5 separate regions of the Homo sapiens genome follow, and regions 1, 3, 4 and 5 are each linked to region 2. Evidence: fine-mapped expression QTL. A gene starts in region 2. Each other region holds a variant in brackets. All regions are shown on one strand. Distances are from middle to middle.

Evidence for each region.
Region 1: its variant is fine-mapped to the expression of SMIM38 in whole blood (TOPMed, PIP above 0.99).
Region 3: its variant is fine-mapped to the expression of SMIM38 in cerebellum (GTEx, PIP above 0.99). The same link has a PIP of 0.9 or more in sigmoid colon.
Region 4: its variant is fine-mapped to the expression of SMIM38 in whole blood (TOPMed, PIP above 0.99).
Region 5: its variant is fine-mapped to the expression of SMIM38 in left ventricle (GTEx, PIP 0.94).

Annotation. Positions count from the first base shown.
Region 1 is chr11:69,101,000-69,106,098 of GRCh38, forward strand. No RefSeq gene overlaps it. Among named protein-coding and RNA genes, the nearest start is that of MIR3164, 20 kb to the left of the region's middle. RefSeq lists an enhancer at 1,146-1,646. The variant G/C (reference allele first, on the strand shown) is at 3,125.
Region 2 is chr11:69,153,246-69,158,344 of GRCh38, forward strand. SMIM38 (small integral membrane protein 38) reads left to right here and starts at 2,690. Exons shown (of 3, transcript NM_001369201.2): 1 at 2,690-2,869; 2 at 3,929-5,099. The coding sequence starts at 4,602. The coding sequence ends at 4,757. The region is part of intron 2 of LOC338694 (a long non-coding RNA gene); the gene reads right to left. RefSeq lists silencers at 516-810, 4,056-4,415 and an enhancer at 2,244-3,171.
Region 3 is chr11:69,125,335-69,130,433 of GRCh38, forward strand. No RefSeq gene overlaps it. Among named protein-coding and RNA genes, the nearest start is that of SMIM38, 28 kb to the right of the region's middle. The variant T/C (reference allele first, on the strand shown) is at 1,951.
Region 4 is chr11:69,084,066-69,089,153 of GRCh38, forward strand. TPCN2 (two pore segment channel 2) reads left to right here. Exons shown (of 25, transcript NM_139075.4): 20 at 1,145-1,221; 21 at 1,606-1,687; 22 at 1,783-1,865; 23 at 2,458-2,539; 24 at 3,047-3,141; 25 at 3,810-5,088. The coding sequence ends at 3,888. Among named protein-coding and RNA genes, the nearest start is that of MIR3164, 3.4 kb to the left of the region's middle. RefSeq lists enhancers at 1,520-2,021, 2,022-2,521 and a silencer at 4,688-4,827. The variant A/G (reference allele first, on the strand shown) is at 3,022.
Region 5 is chr11:69,185,968-69,191,066 of GRCh38, forward strand. No RefSeq gene overlaps it. Among named protein-coding and RNA genes, the nearest start is that of SMIM38, 33 kb to the left of the region's middle. The variant G/A (reference allele first, on the strand shown) is at 2,561.

The sequences.
Region 1 (5,099 bases), 52 kb before region 2:
CAGAGGAGGCCTGCTGGCTGGTCCACTGGTTTGTCAATCACTGGCAGGGCAGAGAGTGATGAGCTGGGCTTGGAGGGGACACAGTCTTGGATATGAGCCCAGCTCTGTGGGCACAGGCACTGTGGCCCCTTCTCCACTGGCCTCAGGTTCCTGGTGTGTGAGATGAGGTGGAAGTGAGCAGAGGGGGCTCCTGGCAGGGCTGCGAGCCTCCTACCTCTGGGTCCCACATCGGTGCTGGGTCCCAATGCCCACCTTGTCTCAGGGGTGACGTCATCACCTTTTGAAGAAGCCCCAGATGGTGTTGAATAGCGATCGCCACCCCCAGTGTGCACCAGGGAAGGAGCATCGTAGACCTAGCAGATGAGGGCAGGCATGACTGAGCCCGTCCCAGCTGGGCCTGGGTACCGGAGGCTTGTAACCTACAAGATGCCCTCAGAGCATAATTTGCATACAGGTGAGGGCCTGCGACAGAGGCCCTGCATGTCCAGAGGCATGGCCAGGTAGAGTAGGTAGGCAGGCTAGACACACCTGGAGATGCTGCCCTGGGCACACGCAGTTCCTGGGTAAGCCAGCGGAGGGCAGCAGAGCCTAGCGGCAGGCGACCCAGTGCCCAGGCCCTGGTACCCTCCTTGCCTCGCTCAGCACCAGGCCTGGGAAGGCAGGGGGAGTCCCCTCCTGGCAGGAGCTCCTCCTCCTCCTGGCAGCCTTCCTGGGCCTGTGCTGGGAACCTTACAACCCTTGCCTAAGAGACCCTAGGGGAATCTGTGTGGTGGCAGTGACAACCAACACTTGTTAGATTCTAGCCAGGAGAGAGGGTAGCGTGCTTTTAGTGGGGAGAGGGTGTGATGAGGTGGGCTGCTGGCTCCCACCACCAGGCCAGCCGGCCACCTGGAGTGCAGGGTACTGATGGGGCCCTCTCTGGCTGTGGGGTTCCCGCTGGGTGGGGCTGGAGCATCCCCTGGGTCTGTCCACCTGCCAGCCACTGTGGGGACACTCAGACTCCCTTCTCCCCGGGTGGGCCACGTCAGTGCCCCCGGGCATGTGAGGTGCTCAAAAGACCCTGCGCTTCTGTGGGTATGCGACTCATTCCACCTCATTTCCCCAGAAATCCGGGTCTCCAGGAGGCTCTTGCAGTCACCCCTTGCTGGTGAGTGCGCTTAGGGAAAGGCCATTTTCAGCCTTCACTGGGGCAAAGAAAAGAGGCTCTGTGTCTGGGGATGCAGTGGGCCACTGGTGAGGGGGGTCACGCTTTGCAGACAGGGCCAAAGTCCCAGAAGGGGAAATAGGTTGGGAGCTGTCAGAGGCCAAGTTGGACAGCTCCACCTTTCCCCCCGCACTGCACAGCCCCTTCTCCTGGAAGTGGACAGGGCAGGGAGGACTGAGAGGGGAAACTGAGGCCCAGACATCCAGGCAATTGCTGAGGTCACCCCAATGTCTGTTCCTTGAGTGCAGCAGTGGCTTGGGCCCCGGGTGCCCTGCCTGTCCATCAGCTCTGCCCACGCCCCCTCCCTGCTTTTTCTCCTTGGCATAGCCCACCCAGCCTCTGGCACAGCCCTGGAAAAATGGTCAAGGAAAACTCTGGGTGCTGGGCCAGCATCAGAGCAGAGCCTGGGGGACCCTGGACCTCCGTCGGTGGCCACAGCGGGAACACTGTGTGGAAGTGTGCTGTGCATACTCATGCATCCTCACTTCTGACTTACAGAGGAGGGAGCTGGGGCTCAGAACATCCTGGAACACGCCTGCCCCTGAGTACACCTGGGCTGGCTGCCTCCAGAAACCAGGGTGGTGTTGGCCACTCTGACAGGCAAAAGGGATTGCATTTGTTTTGGGAACTGTCTGAGGTTAGAAGTCACCCAGTGAAGACAGGAGAACACGGGTGGGGGATATTGCCTCAGTCTGAGTGCCCAAAGGTGGCGGTATTAGCTCAGCTGTGGGGACAGGCGGTGCACAGCCTGTGCTCTGGCCAGGAGGAAGGGGTGCATCAGGGGCTCTGTGGCTGGAGGCAAGGAGACCTCTCAGTAGAGCTGGGAAGGAGGAGTGGGGGCCCTCCTCCCTTGAGAGGTGGCAGGTGGGCAACGATGGCCATGGCTGGGCTGGAGGGAAACTGCTGACCCACGTCACTCGAGCGGGACATGAGACTGGCCCAGGCAGAAGGGCCTGAGACCCCAGGACCCTCATCAAACGTTCACCGGCTCCTTGGGGTTTGATGAAGGGTTCGCAGGCCCGGCAGTGTGCCCCCTCTGGGAGGCAGTCTTGCCTGGCTCATCTACCTCTGGCATTTGTTTCAGTTGCCAAGAATGTGTTTGGCGGCGCCAGGGCCGATGGTCCCACTTTCCACCTGGCAAGTAGTCCTGCCGTATAACTGAAAGGCAGCGACTCCACATGACCATGGGGCAGGCAGGATGGCGAGCTCTGCTCCATCCTGCATGGGGGCAGTGGCCCCGGGAGGCGGACTCCGGGCTGGACGGGAGACATGGGGGAAAAGTGAATCTGGTAGAGGTTACAGAGGGGCCACCCACTTGGCTGGGGCAAGCAGGAATGCTTTCCAGAGAGGCCACACTTCCAGGCTGTGGGGACCCGAGCACAGGGGTGGCGAGTTCTGGCATTTATTATTATTATTTGTTCCAGAACAAAATTCAACTCCCATCCTCAGTTGGCCAATAATGTGGTAGGAACAGGTGGGAGCTGACCCCCAGATGCAGGGTGCTGGGTGCTGTGCTGATTTTCTGGGGCTGCTGTGCAAAGTACCACAGCCTGAGTGGCTTTAGACCATGGAGATGTGCTGTGTTGCAGTTCTGGAGGCCAGAAGTCCCAGGTGCAGGTGCCAGCAGGACTGGGCACCCTCTGAAGGCCCTAGGGAAGCGTCCCTCCTTGCTGCTCCTGGCTTTTTGCGGCTCTGGTGTTCCTTGGCTTGTGGCTGCATCGTTCCAGTCTCTGTCTCCCCCTTCATGTGTCTTCTCCCCTGTGTGTCTGTGTCCACATTTCTCTCTACTTATAAGGACACCGATTGTATTGGATTCAGGGCCTTCCCTGCTCCAGTATAACCTCAACTTATTACATCTGCAGAAACCCTATTTCCAAGTAAAGTCACATCTGAGATTCCAAGTGGATGTGAATTTTAGGA[G/C]CACCTGATTCTACCTTTCCAGGTGTTTTCTCTCTCACAAGCATTCACGAGCAGGCAGCTTTTTGATTTTTACGGTGAGGGGCGGAACCCAGCATTGCTTTGAATGGCCGCATGCTAGGCATTGGGAGGGGTGAAGGCCAGAGAGTGGGGTGCAGGTATCAGGAATGAAGGGATGGGGGCCAGGGAGGCTCTAGCATCCAGTCTTCCTTCTGATCCCAGCCTTGCCATTTGCAGCTGTTTGGTGTTTGGGCAAATTATTGGACCTGCCTGAACTTTAGTTTCCACATCTGTAAAATGGGCCCGTTATTTCTCTGCACTGCACTGGCATCAGTTGCTGGTTCTCTGTAGCGAATGGAGATGACAGAGTCGGTTTGTACAGGGCCAGGAATGGTGTCCTCAGAAATGTTCCGGGGGTGGCCCCAGCTTCTCCTCCACCCGCTGGCTGCACAGACTCCTTGTGCCTTGGGTGCCTCATCTGCAGAACGGGAATAACCACAGTTCCTGCCCTGTTGGCTTAAGGCGAGGACAGGTGGGAGATGGGCCCAAAGCCCTCCCAGGTGCCTGGCCCGGGGCCAGCCTTCGATGCAGATCAGCCTCCGTGCAAGTCAGCTCTGGGGCTCAGGCATCTGGAGATGGTCGGGGAGGCTCTTGCAGATCTTTCTTCTTTCCCCCGAGACCCTGGCTCCACTGTGAGTTTTGTTGGCATTATTGGAGGGCGGTGGGGAGTGAGTGGCGGCGAGATGGACCTGGTAGCGATGACAGTTGCCAGCCACATCTCCAAGGTGGACTTGGTCCCAGCCTGGCAGCACAGGTGAAGCTGGGAGTGGTGCGTGCAGGGCTCTCTGAGTAAGCGGCATCCCAGAGCCTTCCTCTTGGACACTGACCGATGGGACATCGGGCCACGCAGCGTCCACACGCAAGCACTTGCCACCAAGTGTGTCTGCAGCGAGAAGATGCCAGGGGCTTGTGTGGCAGTGGAGCTGTCAGCGCCCACCTGCTGGGTCGAAAGCACCTGTCTCTGCCCAGAAGGGAGGGTCCCGTGGTGGGTGAATGAAGGTTGGGTTGGTTTCACAGACCCCCGTCGTGCCCACTTTGCCTGTCTCTCTGTCTAGACTGAGGCCACGTCAGCTGGCAGGGCCTGTGAGCCCTCTGGCCTTACATTTCCTTGGTCTGGGCCTCTCTGTGTCACATGGCGAATGATCCCTGAGCAACAGTGCCACGTCCTTGGGGAGCTTCGGTTTGAAGGGGCCCCTCCATGGATCTTTTGTAACGTGAGCCATTGCCCCGTGGGTTGGGGTTTCCATGGATTGGTGGGGCACACCGCACCTGTGGTCAGCCCCCACCCCCATCTTTGAGTCTGGGTAAGACAACTCTGGCCTTGCCCGGCCCGGGGTGCCCCCACAGCTCATTCACCTGGCACAGAGAGGCAGTGAGCAAACCAAGAAAGGCACTTTTGATCTGGGGACGGCTGGCACGTTTGCCAAGAGCCCCCAGACAGCCCTGCCTGGCTCGAGCCCAAGACAGCTTCTCAAAGGGCAGTTCCTTTGAGAGAGACTGTTGGGAAACACCTTTGAAAAATGGCTTTGTGCAGCCGGCCTGGAGGGCTGTGGACCGAGCCCCAGGGCTCCTCCTTGGCCACCAGCCTGGGTCCCAGGACGCAGGGCCATATGGCAGGTTTAGAAATTAAGCCAGGCCCTGACATTCCTGTGTGCAGCTCCGGAGGCCCCCTCCCCGCCCCGTGCCTGCAGCCCACTCCCTACCTCTGCCAGCCCGGGGCTCAGCGCCTGCCCTGTGCTTGGGGTGGGGTGAGGAGCTGGGCTTCCACGCCAGCCGACTGGGAAGCTTCTCCAAGTGGTGAAACCCAAGGGAAAGCCGTGGAGTCTTTCCCCGCTGCCACCCGCCTTGGTTTAGTGATGCTCTGCTGGGCCACGTATCCTGCTCTCAGAGTTCAGAAGGGACTTAATCTATTTTTGTC
Region 2 (5,099 bases):
TCTCAGGGGAAGAGGTGATGGGCCACAGGCCTTCGTGGGGTGGGAACTCAGGCTCCCCGTGGGCCCTGGACGGGGTCCTCATGTCCTGTGCTCCGTCTTGGCAGGAGTAAGAGTTGATGATGTTCATGCTCTCCCAACTCACCCATCTCTGCCATGGTTGCTTTTTTTTTTTTTTTTGGTTAAAGCAAGCATATTTTGCTGTTGCAAAAAGAAACAAAGAAAAAAATGATTTTCAACAGGACCCTGACATGTCTGAGAATGTCTCACTGTCAACAAGGCTGTAGGTGGTGGTTTTACAATTTTGGCGGAATCTGTTCTAAGGAAAACACGTGCTTCTTTTAATTTGGCCTCCCAGCTCCAATGCACGTGGCCGTCCTTGCTGAGAGTCTTCTGGGTGCCTGGAACTGTGCTAAGTCCTGGGGGATTCGGCGAGAGCTCGAGTTCTAGAAACACATGGAAGAGTTCAGAGGATGTTGGTGCTATGAAAATAACAAAACCAACCAACACACTGAGGCCCTGGGGGATGTGCCTGGTGGTCCCTGGGGGAGGGCGTTCAGTATTATTCCTGGGTCCTGCATTTGAGTCAGCCAAGTCCAGCTCATCTCGATGACATTTGGGCGGGGATTTCCCCTGCAAAGCACTCTTATCCCCAGCCTTGCTTGCAGAAGCTGGGAAGGGATTATCATCCCCTCACCGTTTTTTTTTTTTTTTTTTTTTTTTGAGATAAGGTGTTGCCCAGGCTGGAGTACAGTAGCTTGATCATGGCTCACTGCAACCTCTGCCTCCCAGGTTCAAGTGATCCTCCTGCCTCAGCCTCCTAGCTAGGTGGGACAACGAGTGTGCACCACCACATCCAGCTAATTTTTGTATTTTTTTTTTTTTTGTAGAGATGGGGTTTTGTCATGTTGCCCAGGTTGGCCTCGAACTCCTGAACCTTCTCACGTCGGCCTCCCAAAGTGCTAGGATTATTTTCCCCTTTTATTGAGGGGAGGAAACTGAGGCCCAGTGATGCTTCAGTGGAGACCAGCTTGCCTGGGGCTCACAGGAAGCTGTTCACAAGGTTCTTGGGGCTCTGTCCCAGGCTGTCACCTGTACTGAGGGCTGGTCCTGGGCGGGGACCAGGCTTTGGGGGCAAGAACTTGCACCTCCTTGTTACTTCCACTCCAGGCCTTCCCCACGGAGCTCACCTGTGGAGAGGTTTCCTCTGCCAAGCATTTCATCAGGAAACAGTGAGTGAGGGTGCGTCACTCACTGCTCTGTCAGCGTTGAACATTTGGGTGCAGGAAGATGCCTTGGCTCTTTGAGGTCCCGATGGCAACTTGCATCCCCAGATCCATCCTCAGAGGCCCGGGGCTGGGAGCATCCCCGGATCCATCCTCAGAGGCCCGGGGCTGGGAGCATCCCCGGATCCATCCTCAGAGGCCCGGGGCTGGGAGCCACCACCGCCCAGCTCCATGCGTTCCCATTGGCGGGGTCTGGGTCTGCGCTGATGAGGCGCTCGTCACTCTTATCCTGGATTATATTCACAGGCGGGTAACTCGGGGGGTGGTGTGATGGGGAGACACAGGAGGGAGGAGCAGGGAGGGCAAGATGAAGGGGAGCAGTCTGGGAAGGGGGCGACTCCAGGCACAGCCGCACGTCCCTGGGATTTTCAGGGGGAGCTCTGGGGGTTCAGAGTGGCCTCTAGTTTGTCCTGGTCCAAAGCAGGGAAGCTGGGCTACGTCCTGCCCAGGTCAGCCTTAGGTTAAGGGCTGCCTGGGGGAGGGAACTTCCTGGGCCTTCGGGTCTCTGTGCACTGGGGTGGCTCCTGTGGCCCAGAATGCCCTGGAGAAGGGTCCTACTGGAAGCGAAGGTGCAGGGCAGCAGGGCCTGAGGCGCAGGAGCTGGTGGAGGCTCCCAGCACAGGTCGCCGCCCCAGTCACATCACTGCTGATGGTGGGGGGACTTGGGGAGTTTCCCCCGAGAATGGGAGGTCTCACAGTCCCCGTGCTGCAATGCTGTCGGTGCACTGTGTCTGCAACGTGCTCATGGTCACTTGCTTTTTCTCTGTGGCCCCGGCCGCTTTATCCAGCAAGTAGCCCCCTCTCCTCTCCGGAGAAGCCGAGCCTGGATGCCGCTGGGAGGAGGTCACTCCCTTCCTGTCTCGAAGGGCATGCCGTCCTCGTCCTTGCTGACTCCCAGAGGCCCAGGGACGTCTGAGGGGGAGGGGCCGGGCCTCCTTGACCCCTGCGTGTGGACACCATGTGACTGGGGTGTGGTTGACTCTCTGTGTCCGATTGGGTGCTTGGCAAACACAGAGAGTTTTGTCCAAGGCCACCTTGGTCCCCACCTGTCCAGGTTGGGAGGTGCCCTGCCTGGTGTGGCCTGAGCTGAGCGCCTCTGGCCGGAGCAGACGGCCCCGGCTCCCCCAGGACATGTCACCTGGAGAGGTGGCCCTTTCAGGTAAGGGACATGCCCATTGGCAGCAGCCTCTGCCCCCTCCCTGCATACACAGCTGCTCCCATCTGGGGACCCTCACCCCACGTGCGGATGGGCTTCCCCAGGAAGTCGGCAGGACTTTCCCTGGCCTTCTGGAAGTCCCCATCAAGCAAATGCTCTATCGATGACTTACTCTATGACGGGGTCCAGAGAGCTAACTCCCCACCCACGTTCGAAGTGATCTTCAAACCGCTGCGCGTGGAAAACAAGCCCAGAGCTCAACGTTCCCTAAGTGAGTGGCCTTTGACAGCAGTGCCAGGCAGCCCAGTGGGTGCAGGGCACACCACAGATGGAGGAAGGGCCAGGCATGCTTCCCAGACAGCCTCTGCCAGTCCAGGCAGGGGCTCCAGGGTGGCTGCGGGAAGGCAGCTTAGGCGGTGCCCGGCCCAAGGTGAGTTGGCATCATGCTCCACTTCCCGTTTGAACGTGTGGTCCCGTTTGAACCTTCTGGAAAGGCTTGGCAGGGAGGACACTCATTTTGTAGACTGGGAAGGAACTGAAGAGCTGGCTTCCGGCGACCAGCGATGGGCCCCAGATCCCTGTGGCCAGGAAGGCCCCCATTGCTGTTCTCTGTAGCTCAGGCTGGACATTTGCTGGTGAGAACTGGCCGGACTCCCAGGACCCAGCCGCCAGAGACCTCTGTTCCTCACGCTCAGCCCCCTAGCTCCAACTGGGGCCCCTTTGCTTTACAGGATGTAGGCTTGGAGTTAGAGGGGGCAGTTCTGGCGGTTTATCTCTCACTCACAGAAACTCGGCTGTGAGAGGCCAGAGCTGGACTTGGGGGGCAGAGCCTGTAGAGGTCAATGTGTCCTTATTGGGTGTGCACACGTGTGAGTCTGTGTGCACACACATGTATACATGTGTATGCGTGTGTGTGTGTGTGTGTGCGCGCGTGTGGCAGTCAGAGAAGGCTGGGCAGACACTGTTATTTCAGAAAAGATGTGGAGGCCTTTCTGAAGGCATCCACTGAGAGGCAGGGGCCAGGATCTCTGTGCCCAGGCGCTGGGCGTGGCCCCTGAGAAGTGCTCTCTCCCCTAATCCTTCAAAGCAGGAGGTATTTGCTTCACTTTCTAAGGCAGGATCTGCGGCTCTGAGAGGTTGCACAACTTGCCCGAGGTCACTCAGCTAGTAGAAGGCAGGACTGGCCTCCGGTCCAGGGTGACTGTGAGGATGTCAGGGGACCCTGCAGGCCTGTGCGCCCCAGCTTAGGGCTACAGGTCCCACCTAAGGCTTCTTGATGGAGGTTGGAGGGGCGAGCTGGAGGGAGGTGCTGCTGGGGGTCCACCGGTCCCCTTCCTGGGGGATGAAGCCGGTTTCCCGCGCTGACCCCCTTGCCATCAGAGGCCCAGAGCGCGGTCCTTGTGCTGCTGAGCTGTGTTTGGGGCCGCCTGTGGGCTGTGGCCGCCTGTCCTCATCTTCTCCCCTTTTCTCCTTGGCTTTTCATCCTCAGGCTCCGTCCTTCTTCCCCGTGGTGGCCCCAGCCTCCCTGCCAAGCTTCCCGGCCCCCGCCCCATCCCGGGCCTGCTGCTGCGGAGACCGTGGGCCGGCGCTGGACGGCGCGGCCTCCAGAAGTGATAGCTAATTGGGGAGAGAAAGGGCCCAATTGTCTGGCGGGGCCGGAAGAGCCGCGTGGGCTGCTGAAAGCGTCGGGAGGAGGTGGCCGCTTCGCCCAGCAGCTGCCGCCGGGGATGTTTGCAGATTACGTCAGCGCTGGCGAGCAGGGGGCGCGGGGACAGCGAGGGGGGCGGGCTCCCGGCGGCCTCCCGCCCCCCAGGCCCCTGGACAATGCTGTCATTGTCAGCACGGAGAGTGGTTAATTCTGGATGAATGGTACACGGGCCTCTTGACCAAGGAGGCTGCTCGTCGTCCCCAGTCTGTCCTCTCACATGCCAGGGAGGCCCCGGGCTGGAGTCTGGCGGGCAGATCTGGCCTGCTTGGTGGCACCAGAGAGAACAGGGCGGTCCCTTGGGGGCGCCGGCTGCAGAGGCCCCAGGCTGGACGGAGCTTCCTGTCCTGGGTCTGCACAGCAGCCACTTGGCAGTGCCGGGCTAGGGTGGCAGGGCCCCACTGCATCTCGGTTCCAGGGCAGAGGCTGCTGCTGCCCTTTGGGGCTGACTTCAGGCATGACCTCCTGGCCAGGTGGCAGCTTTGGCCCTGACCCGCTCCTGGCCCTGCTGGTGGTGATCCTGCTAGCACGCCTCATCCTGTGGTCCTGCCTCGGGACCTACATCGACTACAGACTGGCCCAGCGGCGGCCCCAGAAACCCAAGCAGGACTAAGCCTCTGCAGGCTGCGGCCTCCACGCGCCCTGTCCCGAGACTCAGCCGGCCCTTCCAGTGGTGGTGGGAGGGAGGGGAGCAGGGCAGGCGCATGATCCCCATGTCCCACCCCTGGGGCAGGAGCTCAGAGAGGCCTGAGATGGATCGTGCCTTCCCAGACTGACCAGGGCTGTCCCGTAGAGGCAGCTGGCCATGTGGGGAGATGGAGGGGCCGGCCTTGCAGGTCCATCACCAGGTTCTGGGGTCCCCGGTTGCAGGGAGTGGTCCTGGGGGTGGGTCTTGCTTTAAGACCTTCTCTGCCTCCAATTCCTTATAAATATGCCTGCAGGAAGAGCTGGGTAA
Region 3 (5,099 bases), 28 kb before region 2:
TTTCACATGGCTTCAGTATTTTTAATTTTTTTTTTTTGAGAAGGAGTATCACTCTGTCGCTTAGGCTGGAGTGCAGTGGCACAATCTTGGCTCACTACAACCTCCACCTCCCGGGTTCAAGCGATTCTCCTGCCTCAGCCTCCTGAGTAGCTGGGATTACAGGTGCACACCACCACGCCCAGCTAATTTTTGTGTTTTTAGTAGAGACAGGGTTTCACTATGTTGGTCAGGCTGGTCTCGAACTCCTGACCTAGTGATCTGCCTGCCTTGGCCTCCCAAAGTGTTGGGATCACAGGCGTGGGCCACTGCGCCTGGCCCACATGGCTTCAGTTTTTAAAAATTAAATTTAATGAATTTTTCTGCAGGTCTGTAGTAGGTGTATGTACCTGTGGGGTCCATGAGATGTTTGGATACAGGCATGCAGTGTGAAATCAGCACGTCCTGGGGAATGGGGTATCCATCCCACAAACATTTATCCTCTGAGTTACAAATAATCCAATTATTGCTTCAGTTTTTAAATGTAAAATAATTAAAATTAAATATATTTAAAAAAAACCCCCACAGTTTATGAGTCTCACCAGCCATGTACAGAGTGATCAGCAGCTGTGTGGCCAGGGGCTGGTGTGTGGGTGACGCTGGCCCAGGCGTCATCTGTGTCCTTCTACCCTCATCAAACTGCACCTGTCCAGGGCCCTGTCCCTCCAGCCTGTGCCTCTGCTGAGTGGCCCCTGGCTCACCTGAGGCTCTCAGGCACACTTGTCTGTGAGAGGCTGAACCCCACCTCCTGTTTAGAGGCATTTAGTGGACATTCGAGGGCTGATCAGATGGGGCTTCAGGCTTCTCAAAAGGGAGGCAGGCAGGGGAGGGGCTTTGCCTCAGAGCCCTATCTGCTATGAGGTTGAGGAGGGCACACAACCTGGTGGGGTCTGAGTCCTTGGGCTGGGTGCTTTGGGCCACATGCAGCCCCTCTCTGGGCCTGTCCAGAGGGCTCTGATGTCCCCTCGAGCTCCAGTCTGTCTACCTAGTACTTGCCAGTGCCCATAAGTCAGGAGCTGGAGTCCTTCCCAGAGACCTAGCAGCACCAGACGGTGCCTGGCGGACAGACGGCCCTTCTTGGTGGCCTGGTGCATGGATGCGGGTGCTGGCCTCACTGTGGAGTGCGGTCCGGAATGGCCTTTGTGTCTCACCTGCCGCAGGGGTCTGACTCTGACCTTCCTCAGGGACCCTACCATTCCAGGGTTCTGTACCCCATGCGGCGACTGTCCAGCCTTGCTTGAGGCCCACCTCTCCCCATATGCTGATGACACCGTCGTCCTGACAATAGCCTGAGAGGCAGGTCCTGTGTGGGTTGTACTCTGTGGATGGGGAGACTGAGGCACAGAGAGGTGAAGAGATTTGCCCGGAGTTGCAGAGCTCACGAGTGGCAGAGCTAGGAATCGGACCGGCTGCCTGGCTCGCATGCTCCTGAGAACTGCTGAGCGACTGTCCCCTCTGATAGCCAAAACCCTGGCTCTAGTCTTGGCTGTTCAGCCTCCTGGTTGCAGCTTCAGTGTCTCCAACTGTACCATGAGTGAATGGGACCCTCTGATGGCTAAGTTCCATCCAGCTCTGAGAGCCTCTGCATTGCCTGTTACTTTTTATTTTTAAAGTGATTTTGTTTTGGCGAGGAGGCTGAGGGAGGGTGAGGCCAGGTGGGTGGGAAAAAACATGAAATCGCTCAGCCCCAGGCCCTCCTAGCAGCTTAGTCCCTACAGATTGACGGAGGCCTTGCACACATTTCCCAGAGGCCGTGCTGGGAAGCCCGCCCAGCCGGATCCCGGCGCTTGGAAAAGCCCACTCTGTGTCTTGGCACTCGGGCCTTACAGCTGCCGGGGACTGGCTGCGTGAGGTCCTGGGGCTGGCGTGGCTGCGGCCGGGTGGGTGGGTGGGGGGGGGGTGTGCCGAGGGGCA[T/C]GCATCCATCACTGCCAGCAGCTTGCGTGGGCCCTGCCAAGTCGTGGGGGAACCGAGCCCAGGTGCCAACGTGCTTGGTAACTGGCTTGCTATTTGAAAAATTAAAGCGGTGTCAAGAATATCTAACCTTTGCATTCATATCAGGAGTCTGGAGCCGGGCGGGTGGCAGCCAGAGTGGGGCTGTTTGTGCAGGGCGGCCAGTGGGAAGGCACCCTCGGAAGGAGCAGATTACAGCAAAGAACATTATCCACCCAGCACCCAGGAGGAGGCACAGGTGATAACTGGGGAGGGGGAGCAGAAAGCACAGGCGAGCTGACCTCTCTCTAGCTGCTGGGACCCCTGCAGGAAGGCAGCCTGGTGCGCACCTACTGTGTGCCGGGAGAATGTGCCAGGTGCTGGGGTGGATGGAGATGGGGTGGCACCTCCAGGACACACTGCGCCTGGGCCCATGATACTTGCAGGGACCCACAGTGATGTTTTAATGTCTTTTAAAATCAAAAGAAAGAAATGAACTTTTAGGTTGAAGAAATGATGGTTAATAATGTCCCCACATATGACCTAAAGTGATCTACAGATTCAGTGCAATCCCTATCAAAATAGCAATGACATTCTTCACAGAAATAGAAAAAAAACAATCCTGAAAGTCATATGGAACCACAAAACACCCCAATAGCCAAAGCAATCTGGTGCTAAAAGAACAAAACTGGAGGCATCACACTACCTGACTTCAAAATATACTACAAAGCTATAGTAACCAAAACAGCATGGTACTGGCTAAAAACAGACACATAGACACATGGACCACAATAGAGGGTCCAGATGCAAATCCATGCATTAATAGCCACTTGATTTTCAACAAAGGCACCAAGAACATGTGTTGGGGAAAGGACAGTTTCTAATAAATGGTGCTGGAAAAACTGGATATTCACATGCAAAAGAATGAAGTTGGACCCATACCTTACACGATACACACAAAAAGCTCAAAATGGATTAAAGACTTATTATGAAACTACTAGAAGAAAGCATAGGGGAAACACTTCAGGCTATTGGTCTGGGCAAAGATTTTATGGCTGAGATTTCAAAAGCCCTGGCAACAAAAGCATATAAAGAACTTGAACAACTCAACAGCAAAAAATCCAAATAAGATTTAAAAATGGGCAAGTATTCTAAATAGACATTTCTCAAAAGAAGACATACAAAGGGCCAACAAGTATATGAAAAAAATGCTCAACATCACTGATCATCAGAGAAATGTAAATTAAAACCACAATGAGGGCTGGGCGTGGTGGCTTACACCTGTAATCCCAGTACTTTGGGAGGCCGAGGCGAGTGGATCACTTGAGGTCAGGAGTTTGAGACCAGCCTGGCCAACATGGTGAAACCTGTCTCTACTAAAAATACACAAAATAGCTGGGCATTGTCATGCATGCCTGTAATTCCAGCTGAGGTGGAAGGATTGCTTGAACCCAGGAGGTGGAGGTTGCAGTGAGTGGAGATCGTGGCAGTGCACTCCAGCCTGGGTGACAGAGCGAGACTTCATCACAAAAACAAAAACAAAAACAAAAAACAGAAAACAAAACCACAGTGAGATATCTCATCCCACTTAAAATAGAAATAAAATTATCAAAAAGACAAAAACAACCAAACAACAAATGCTGGTGAGGATACAGGGAAAAGTAACTCTTATACACTCTTAGTGGGAATTTAGAATAGTGCAGCCATTATGGACAACAGTATGGAAATTCCTCCAAAAATTAAAAGCAGAACTACCATATGACCCAGCAATTCTGCTAGTGGGTATGTATACAAAGACTAGGAGATCAGCATGTGAAAGAGACATCTGCACCCACATTCTCACTGTAGTGGTAGTCACAATAGCTAAGAGATGGAATCAACCTATGTGCCCATCAATGGATGAATGCATAAAGAAAATGAAGTGCAAATACATAATGGAATACTATACGGCCATAAAAAAGAATGCAATTCTGTCATTTGAGGAAAAGTGGATGAGCCTGGGGACCAGGGAATGGGAAGGGTGACGGGGAGAGGGGAATAGGGAGAGATTGGTAAATGGGTACAAAATTACAGTTGGGCAGAAGGAATGAGCTCTAGTGTTCTATGGCACAGTAGGGGGACTACAGTTAATAATTTATTATATATTTCAAAATAGCTAGAAGAGAAGAATCAGAATGTTCCCAACGTAAAGAAGAGATACATGTTTGCGGCGATGGACATACCAGTCACCTGCTGTGATCGTTACTTGTTGAAATGGGATCATATACATGTATTGAAATATCACATGTGCCCTATGAATATGTACGTTATTATGTGTTAACTAAAAAAAAAATCCCCACAAAATTCACATCCACTTGGAGCCTCAGAATATGACCTTCTTTGGAGATAGGGTCTTTGCAGATGTAGTCAAGTGAAGAGGGGGTAGTTCTGGAGCAGGGTGGGCCCTGACCCCATGGCTGGTATCCTCATAAGAAGAAGAGATCCAGAGACACAGGCCGGGAAGACCATGTGCCGATGGAAGCAGAGGTTGGGGGGATGCGGCCATAAGCCAGGGAACGCCAGGAACCAGCAGAAGCTGGCAGGGGCAAGGAAGGACCCTCCCTGAGAGCCTTCAGCGGACCCAGCCCAGCCGACACCTTGAGTTTGGATTTCTGCCTCCAGAGCTGTGAGAGAATAATTCCCACAATTCTGAGCCACCTGTGGTAATTGGTTATGGCGGGCCCAGGAAATAATACAATGTATAATATTGATCTGTCTCTACTCCGGCATAGTTAGATCAATAGAATTCTTTGCAGGGTGCAGTGGCTTATACCTGCAGTCTCAGCACTTTGGGAGGGCTAGGCAGGTGGATCACATGTGGCCAGGAGTTTGAGACCAGCCTGGGCAGCATAGTGAGACCATCTCTCTACAAAAAATACAAAAATTAGCCAGGTGTGGTGGTGTATGCCTGTGGTCCTGGCTACTAGGGAGGCTGAGATGGGAGAATTGCTTGAACCCTGGGAGGTTCAAGGCCGCAGTGAGCTGAGATTGTGCTGCTGCACTCCAGCCTGGATGACAGAGTAAGACCCTGTCTCAATAATAATAATAATAATAATAAAATAATTTTTTTAAATGGAAGAAGGAATCTAAGTGTT
Region 4 (5,088 bases), 69 kb before region 2:
CTGGGAGGCTGGCGGAAGGCAGTGCCGGGCCGGCTCACTGCTCTGTCGGTAGGAAGGTTCTTGGGTTCGGACGGCAGCAGGTTCCTGAGGCCAGGGAAGTACAGGGTCGGGGTAAGAAGCCAGAGGCATCCCCTTCTTTGTACAGCAGGGAGCTCGGGTGGTGTGGCTGGTGGCCCTGCCTGAGCATCCTTCCCTCCCATGGCAGAGACTGTTTGGTAATTTTTGAGTCTCTCGTGTTTTCTGGGTTGTGGATCTCGTTGAGAAAGTAATGACAGAAATTTAAGAGGCGCAGGGCTTTGCTCCAGGGACCCCAAAGCCTGCACAAGCCCTGGGATGAGGACTTGGTCGAGGCTCCTTTCTTAGAGGAATTTCAGGGACTCACAGCCACATTTGCTGAGCGAGAACTGTGGGACGCCCCGGCCCCTCCCTGGGGGCCAGCCTTCCAGCTGAGGAGCCCATCTGCTCTGCCTGGTGGCCGGGCTTGGGCAGGAGAGGGGCCTGTGACCAGGCAGGCCCCAGATCCGCGCCGTGCAGAGTGACAGGAGGCGCCCTTTGCAGGAAGCCCGGCCACACTTCAGGCAGTTTTGCCATTTTATTCTGACCACCTTGACGTAGGGACCACTGGGGTGAGAAGGTGTCTCTGGGGCCGCAGGGTGCTCTGGGCTGGACCCCAGCTGTGCCTCGCGCCTCTGGAAATAGACGCTGGGAAGAGAATCTTGCCTCAGGTGCTGTCTGCCCAGCCCCCTAACTTGCACAGCAGAGGAAACTGAGGCCCAGAAAGGGGACCAGGTTAGCCCAGGCGTGTACCCCTTCCACTCTGCTGACGCATGTTAGGGACAGGCCTGGGGTTGGCGGGCAGCCTGTCCCCTAACTGTGGCTGCCAGGGTACCTGGGGGCAGGGCCCTAATTCCCTTAGGAGCTCCATGACCACGCCTGCCTGAGCCCCACTGTGTCTGTGGACCCGCCAGCCCTGGGGGAGGCCAGCTGCGTGTGTTTTGAAGTAGCAGCCAGGCTGGAATCCCAGCCCTGGGCAGAGGGTCCTGGCCTCACAGTCATCCTCTGGCTTTGCGGTTCTGTCTGGGGAGGGTGGTGGTGGGTGCACCCATGGGTGGGGCTGATCAGTCCCCGGCTCCTGGCCCGCCAGGTGGTCTACTACGTATTTGCCATCATTGGGATCAACTTGTTTAGAGGCGTCATTGTGGCTCTTCCTGGAAACAGCAGGTGAGGTGGGGTCCGAGGTGCCACAGGGAGTGTCTCAGGGGTGCTGGGGTGGGCGGGAAGCCTTGGCGGTGGCCTCAGTGGGCTCAGCATCTCAGGATGGGAGGGTGTTCTCCCAGTTCCTTCGTCTCCTCCCTCCACCCCCTTTTCCCGACCCCCAATTTCCACCTCCGCTCCGCACCTCTCCTAGGAGCCCTTGCCTGGAGTCTGCTAAACACATTTCTCGTGGCCTGCTCAGAGCAGCACTTTCCCTGCCCTCTGAGCCTCTGTATCCCAATTTGTACCTTCAGGCCAGGCTGAGCACGCCAGCAGAGGAAAGGGGTGTAAGGTATCAGGCCTCAGAACCTGGAGCCCCCGCCCCTGACCCAGGTGTGTTGTGTTCCCCAGCCTGGCCCCTGCCAATGGCTCGGCGCCCTGTGGGAGCTTCGAGCAGCTGGAGTACTGGGCCAACAACTTCGATGACTTTGCGGTGAGCCCTGCGCCCTGTCCCAGCACCCTGCTCCCCGGGCTCCTCCCCTCCCTACCTCCTGGGCCCTCCTGGACCGCTGGTCTCTGCCCCCGCAGGCTGCCCTGGTCACTCTGTGGAACTTGATGGTGGTGAACAACTGGCAGGTGTTTCTGGATGCATATCGGCGCTACTCAGGCCCGTGAGTCCTCGTCTCCCTGACGGCAGTGATTCTCCGTGCAGCCTGGGGGTTCCCTCACCTCCGGGCACGCTGCATCTGCACTGGACGCCCGGAGCGTGGCTGGGACGGGGACTCGGGCCTTGACAGGGAAGTCGGCCAGCGTGGCATCCTGGCTTGCCTTGTCCCTGCCCCCTGCATAGCCACATCGTGACTCTCAGGATGGTGGCCAGTGACTCTGGGTTTACACCTCCTGGAGGTCGTTGGTGTGTTTGGGGCTTCTGAGGAATTCCATGGGGGTGGGGGAGCCCCGGGAAGGCTGAGTGAACGAGATAGTTCAGCTCTGAGCTTGAAGAGCTCAGACTGGCCCCAGCTGATGGTCCTGGGTTTTAATCCCAGCACCGCCTCCTGCTGGCTTAGCTACCTCGGCAGCTTGTTGCACGTTTCTAGGCCTCAGTTGGGTTGTTTCTGAGATGGAAATAGTAACGCGCTCTGCATCATGGTGTGTGTGGGCCGGCTGCCCGAGAGCTGTCCTGGCCACGCAGCAGTGGTGTTTGTATCGAGTGCTCTTGCTTTGCTCATCGTGGTTCACAGGGTGGGTCTCTGTCCTCCGCAGGTGGTCCAAGATCTATTTTGTATTGTGGTGGCTGGTGTCGTCTGTCATCTGGGTCAACCTGTTTCTGGCCCTGATTCTGGAGGTATCAGAGATCCCCACCCAGGCTGTTCTCCATGGTCGTTTGTTTCTAATTCACTCTCGATGGGCCTGAGGCCACCGGCCGGGCCTGCCTGGAACTTTGATGGGAGAGTCGTGCTGGGTTAGGCGGGTCCTGAGTGAGGCTGAGCCCCTCCCGTGGGGCTCAGTGCTGCCCGCCCTGGCTGCTGGGGCCTTGGGGAGTGCTCCTGACATCTGGGCTGCTGGGGCCTTGGGGGGTGCTCCTGACATCTGGGCTGCTGGGGCCTTGGGGGGTGCTCCTGACATCTGGGCTGTGGGGATTCTCAGGCCCCCAGGTCGGGCTGAAGGAGGGACTTGGACATTGGCTCCAGGAGGAGCCAGCAGCCTCGTGGGGCCTGTGCCTGGGTGTCCAGGGTGAATGGCTCAGCCCCCTCAGCGGGTGCCCTGTGGCTGACCCTGGAGGGGCCGGGGATGGGGCAAGGCTGCTTTCATTCGGGGCCCACACTC[A/G]CTGGCCACTCCTCCTGCTTGCCAGAACTTCCTTCACAAGTGGGACCCCCGCAGCCACCTGCAGCCCCTTGCTGGGACCCCAGAGGCCACCTACCAGATGACTGTGGAGCTCCTGTTCAGGTGTGTGGGTGGGGAAGGCGCTTCTGTCTGGCCCCCTGGGATGGGAAGCCAAGAGCTGGGGGGTGGAGGGGTTGAGGCGGCGGGCAGGCCCTGATGACTGTCCTCCCCCTCCGCCCGGTTATCTGGCTTTGGTCCTGTGCTCTAGGAGAGCAGCTCAGAGCCGGGATCGGGGCGGCTTCTTCTTCCTGCCACTGGCGTCATAGCCTTTGTCCTGCTCTCCTGCTCTTGGATTGGGCATATTTAAGGCACCATCCTTCAGGGTCCATTGGATCCTGTTGGATGTAAACAAGGGACCTGAGGAAAACGCACCCATCTCTTCTCCTGGCAGCTTTGAGATGGTTCCTCTGCTAGTCCAGAAAAGTGACCACCCAGAGGCAGCCCTGCTGTGGGGCCTCTGTGCCTTCCACCAGGGGCTGCCGAGTTGCTGCAGCCAAGCCCTGCGGTCCTGCCAGCCAGTGGGAAGACGTGGCCCCTGGGCTTTTAAGAATGCCGTGTAGATATTTCTAGTGGCTACATCCATCCTGAGGCTCATCTGAGTCCCCGTGTCTCTGTGTCCCTGTGACACTCACTTCGCATGTGTTGCTAAGCTCTGCTCCCTTGTTCTTGTGGGCAGGCCAGGGTCTCCCTCCTTTAGAGGCCCCTGTGTGCATCTTTCCTCAATTCCACAGGGATATTCTGGAGGAGCCCGGGGAGGATGAGCTCACAGAGAGGCTGAGCCAGCACCCGCACCTGTGGCTGTGCAGGTGACGTCCGGGCTGCCGTCCCAGCAGGGGCGGCAGGAGAGAGAGGCTGGCCTACACAGGTGCCCGTCATGGAAGAGGCGGCCATGCTGTGGCCAGCCAGGCAGGAAGAGACCTTTCCTCTGACGGACCACTAAGCTGGGGACAGGAACCAAGTCCTTTGCGTGTGGCCCAACAACCATCTACAGAACAGCTGCTGGTGCTTCAGGGAGGCGCCGTGCCCTCCGCTTTCTTTTATAGCTGCTTCAGTGAGAATTCCCTCGTCGACTCCACAGGGACCTTTCAGACAAAAATGCAAGAAGCAGCGGCCTCCCCTGTCCCCTGCAGCTTCCGTGGTGCCTTTGCTGCCGGCAGCCCTTGGGGACCACAGGCCTGACCAGGGCCTGCACAGGTTAACCGTCAGACTTCCGGGGCATTCAGGTGGGGATGCTGGTGGTTTGACATGGAGAGAACCTTGACTGTGTTTTATTATTTCATGGCTTGTATGAGTGTGACTGGGTGTGTTTCTTTAGGGTTCTGATTGCCAGTTATTTTCATCAATAAGTCTTGCAAAGAATGGGATTGTCATTCTTCACTTCAGCACAGTTCTAGTCCTGCTTCTCTGGAGTAGGGTTGTTGAGTAAGGTTGCTTGGGTTGTGCATTGCACAAGGGCACATGGCTGTGAGGTGTATCCTGGCGGGGGGCTGTCTACCTGCAGTGAGGGGCACCTTTTCTGTTTTGCTCAAAGGCATGTATAAGCCAATGGGTGACCTTATTTCCTGTGTCTTCAGGTGTGTGGCAGGGGGCCTGGGGTGGGGAGGTGGGGCGAGCGAGCAGTGTGTGGAAAGCCTTGTTGTCACCTGAAGCACGCCAGGTCCAGATTGACCAATGGTTTTCTCACTTCAGGGGCCAACCCACGCCCCCTTTCTGCTGAGGTTTGGGTGCCATCTAGTGGTGGGATGGGACTTGGTTGACTACATTTAAGGTAAGGTGGACCCAGCAACTCCCAGAAACAACTCCGGGGACACCACTCCCCATCACACTCCACACCGAGCCTGGTGCCCGGTCTGTGCCCGAGCTCAGCGGGACCAGGAAGGGATGGGCCCTGCCAGGGTTGCCCCTGCACTGTGCATTCTCGCCTGGGAGGCACAAGTTCTTTCATCTGCTTTTCCTTCAGAGGTGCTGAGCCCACGCCATAGCCCCTGTGGGATGGTGGGGGAGGGGGCG
Region 5 (5,099 bases), 33 kb after region 2:
CCGGCCTTATTTTTCTTAAAGAGCCCCTGTCCAGTTGTGTAAGCTCCAGGCTCCTTGGCGCCTGGCTTCACCCCACCCTCTCAGCATCCCCTGCCCAGGGAATCCACTTTACTGGAGTTGGGGGTAGATTCCAACCAGGACGCTTTGCCTCCCTCCCATAGGGTGGGGTGGACCCTGTCCTCCTAACCTTCGTGACCATGCAGAACAGCTGCCCCCATCCTTCAAGGACTGGCACCCACTTTTCACATGCCTCCCCTCATTTAATCCCCTTAATTTCACATCGCTTCTGTATATTTTCAGAATTATTGGTTAAGCCAAAATTGGATTATTGATCATTCCAATATTTCAGAATAATGAACACCACCCAGGTTGCCATAGAGAGATTTGAGGCAGGAGAGGTGAACACACCCCAGCTTCCCAGCCAGTAAGTGGTCGTGCTGGGATGTGAACCCAGGGCTATGGCTCCCCTGCTGGCAGCCCTAGTGCCATTGTATTCTCCACTCTTGGTCACCAGCGATCACAGCAGCCTTGTCAATAGGAACAGAAACCTTTTATGTGCACCCTCCCCTGTGCCCTGTGCCTTGCGTTGGACCACATTTCAGTCTCACAGCAGTGTTTGAAGATGGCTACACTGATTATCCTGTGTTACAGATAAGCAAATTGAGGCTAAGAGTGGCTAAGCAATACATTCACGATGGCACAGCTGATATGTAGTGAGAGTTCAGTTTTGAACTCAGGTCTGAGAGCCCCATTTTCATGACCCTGGCATCCCCAGGGAAGTCATCCCTGCCACCCCTGGATTGGTGCTATCAGCCTTCCTGCGCAGAATGTTCCAGAATGTCATCCCCTGCCCGGGAAAACTGGCCCTTTGAGTGGCTGACCAGCCCCCACTCCCAACCACTCTCCTTGGCTCTATTTGTAAAGTGAATTACTGCATTATGGGAGGAACAAGAAGGTTCTTTATCTCCACTTGGGCAAATCCATTAGGATTAGAGGCCCCTCTGAAGCCCCTCTGAGGGGGTGACGTAAGCCTGTCTTTGGTGATTTGCAGAGTGACAGCATGATAAGGAGTCCGGGCCCGTTTTAGTGGTGACAGGACATCCTCCCCCTGCAGCACCCAAGAATTAGCGGGCCTATCTCTCCATTTATCAAAGCCCTTTGGGGGATGAGGCAATCGGGCGGAGGAGTATTGCAGCCTCTCTGTCTCGGAGTCTGTGGAGCTGTCGCTTCCCGCCAGCTTGCCCAGGTCATACAGCTGCCCAGGATCTGCGGGGTCTTCGTGACTTCCCACAGTGAGAACCAACAGAAGGGTCTCCAACTGCCAGGCTTCGTGGCCCAGGTCCCTCCAGTGTCTGACCTGCATGGCCTGCCACCCTCTAGACAATGCCCAGACTTTTGCCCTGAAATACCATGAGGATGGGGATGCCATTATCTAGCAAGGGGACCGCCATGTCTGGGGAAAAATTCAAGGGTTCTGCCTGGCTCAGGCTCAGTCTGAGGTGCTAGGGAAGATGGCAGGTCCCAAAGATGATGCCCCCTGTATATCTCCCATTCCACCTGCTCTTCTTACAAAGTAAGGTCGACACTCTCCCTTTGAGAGGAAGAGTGACCCTGTCCCTGAGCTTGTGCAGACCTGTACGCTGACAGAGTATATGGCAGGAGTGACGCCCTGTGGCTCCTGAGTTGAGGGCTGAAAAGGCAATATGGCTTTCATTTGACTCTCTCTTTCTTGGAATTCATCCTCCATGTTGTGAGGAAGCCCAAGCCACATGGAGAGGCCATGTGTGGTTCTGGCCAGCAGCCCTTGCCAGGCCCGCAGCTGACATCAGCCTCAACTGGCAGACATGAAGGTGAATGAGCCTTCAGGTGGTTCTGTCTCTAGCCTCTGAGCCACCCCAGCTGAGGCCCCAGATGTCACTGGGTGGAGAGAAACCATCCCCGCTGTGCCTGCTTGACCGGCAGAAGCCATGAGAGATAACAAATGATGATTGTTGTTTTGAGTGACTCCATCTTGGGGCAGTGTTATTCAAACAGAATAACCAGAACACATGCTGCTAATAAAGACGTATCTGAGACTGAGTGATTTATGAAGGAAAGAGGTTTAATTGGCTCACAGTCCCACATGGCTGGGGAGGCCTCACAATCATGGCTGAAGGTGAACAAGGAGCAAAATCACGTCTTACATGGCAGTAGGCAAGACAGCATGTGTAGGGGAACTCCCCTTTATAAAACCATCAGATCTCAGGAGACTTATTCACAGTCACGAGAACAGCATGGGAAAGACCCACCCGTATGATTCAATTACCTCCCACCAGATCCCTCCCATGATAAGTGGGAATTATGGAAGCTACAGGAATTATGGGAATTACAATTCAAGATGAGATTTGGGTGGACATACAGTCAAACCATATCACCGTTTGTGTGTGGAAGGCAGAATAGTGGCCCCCAAAAATGTCTTCATCCTAATCCCTGAAATTTGTGAACATGTTAGGTTACAGGACAAAGGGGAATTAAAGTCACAGATGGAATTAAGGCTAATAATCAGCAGGCCTCAAGATAG[G/A]GAGACCATCCTGAATCATCCAGCTTGGCCCAGTGTCATCACAGGGTCCTTAAAAGTGGAAGAGAGGGAGTAAGAGGAGAATCAGAGGGAGTTGTGATGGTGGAGGCAAGGCACAGAAAGATGCAGTGTTGCTGGCTTGGAACATGGAGAAGGGGCACGAGCCAGGAAATGCTGGTGGCCTCCAGAAGCTGGAAAAGGCAAGGAAATGATTTGCACCCGCAGGCTCCAGAAGGAACCTGGATTCAAGCCCTGTGAGACCTGTCCTGACCTCTGGGACTGTAGAGTGATAAGTGTCTGTTACTTTACGCTACCAAGTTTGTGGTGTTTTGTTGTAGCAGCAATAACAACTGACACAGCCTCTATGTGCTCTTGGGAATGAGAGAAGGAGATAATATCAAAGAAAAAGAGGGCCTAGCTGCAGGAGAAAGGTCTTGCATAGGTGAGAGGGAATGGGGGCCAGGACCCCAGTCATAGCCATTTAATAGTAATGCCATCAGCATCATTGTTATCAGCATCATCACCACCATTGTCATCATCATTGTCACCATCATTACCACCATCATCATCATCACCATCATCATCATAATCACCATCATCATCATTGTCGTCATAATCACCATTATCATCATTGTCATCATCACCATTATCATCGTCATCATCATCATCACCACCACCACCACCACCACCATCACCACCATCATCATCATTGTCATCATAATCACCATTATCATTATCATCATTACCACCACCACCACTACCATCATCATCATTATCATCATCATCACCACCACCATCATCGTCATCACTGTCATTATTATCATTGTCATTGTCACCATTGTTGTCATCTTCATTGTCATCATCATTATGAAGACTGTTCAGCAAAGACCCCAGGAGGTAGGGCCCCATCAGGAGACAGCATTTTCCCTGCAGGGATAGGTGGCCTCTAGCACTTAGTTCAACTCTTTCCTTTTCTGGGGATGGGGGTGCAGGAGGGAAAACCTAGGATCCCATCCAAACCCTCCACATTTTATCTCTTGCTTCATTTGCCTCTTTCTCTCCTGCCTTATTTGAGAGCTGATGTCCCTCCGACCTCTTTTGGAACACTGTTGACAGACAGCACAGGGCTGTAGGAACCCACTGGCCCTGGAGCCGACTGCCTGTGCTTGAATCCTGTCTCTAGCACCAATATTTGGGTAACCTTGGGTTATTTAACCTCTCTGTCCCTCAGTGTTCCCACCTCTAGAAGGAGATGAATGCTTCTGCCTCATAGGGGAGTTGTGACTTATACCTGGAATGAACTTTGGCCTATAATGGGTGTGTGACAAGTCTCCTCAGCATTGGACAGCTTCACTGCTCTGCGCCCAAGACTGCCCTCGTCAGTGCTGGATGAATGAGGCCAGGAGGCGGGGGAAAGAATGGAGGCAGGTGCCCAAGCTTGGGTTTGGGGCAACATCGAGCTAAAGAGCCAGAAGGCAGGGCTGCATGATCCCAAACTCTACCAGAGGCTTCCTCTCCCTGACTCCAAAGTCCTTTAGCCCTGGGCAGGTAGAAAGAAGGCGGGGGCCGGAGATGGAGATTCCCGGTGGACAGTAATGGTGCCTGGCCGCTACCATGGCTGAAGTTTGCCCCTCTGGCCTTGCCTGGGGACTGGCAGTCTCAAGACAGTGGAGAGAGGCTAAACTCCATCCTGCCCCTGGTAGAACCTGACACTGGACATCAGAGGCATCTTGGAAGGTGGTGTCTTCCCGGCCTGTTCCAGGGCAGGCATGTGAGACAACTTTGCCCAAGAATGCAAGCACCTTCCTGGGTCCCTACCATGAGGGCTCATGTTGTTTACCATAGTAGTTTGCAGACATAAACAAAATAATAATAAAATTGATGTATTAAAGAAACTTTTCATTGAATGGAGTTTTTAATAGAAAACTTAGTTTGAAAAAAACAGACAGGCTGAGTGTGGTGGCTCACACCTGTAATCCCAGCAATTTGGGAGGCTGAGATGGGAGGATTGCTTGAGGCCAGGAGTTCAAGACCTGCCTGGACAACATAGCAAGACTTCATCTCTACAAAAAAATTAAAAATTAACCTGGTATGGTGGCATACGCCTGTGGTCCCAGCTACTCGAGAGGCTGAGGTGGGAGGATTGCTTGAGCCTGGCAGTTCGAGGCTGCAGTGAGCTATGATCGCACTGCTGCCCTCCAGCCTGGGAGACTGAGTGAGACCCTGTCTCTAAATAAATAAGTAAATAAATAAATGGTCCTCCCAGTGGACACAGCCCTGGCTGGAAGGTGGGTTCTTGGCTGAGTTTCAACCCCGTTCAACCACGTGATGTTGGGAAGATGGTGAGATCTTTCTGAATCTCAGTGTCTCCATCTGCAGAGACAGAGGCGCAAAATGGCACCACTACACAGCACTGCTCCCTGGGCCGTCAGGGGCAGGGTTCCTGGGTGGCGCCAGCCATGTGGGCTCATGTCCCCTGGCAATCTTGTGACGTCGTCTCCCATTTCCACCTGGACATTGCCCATCGGTCCCTCCATGGGTG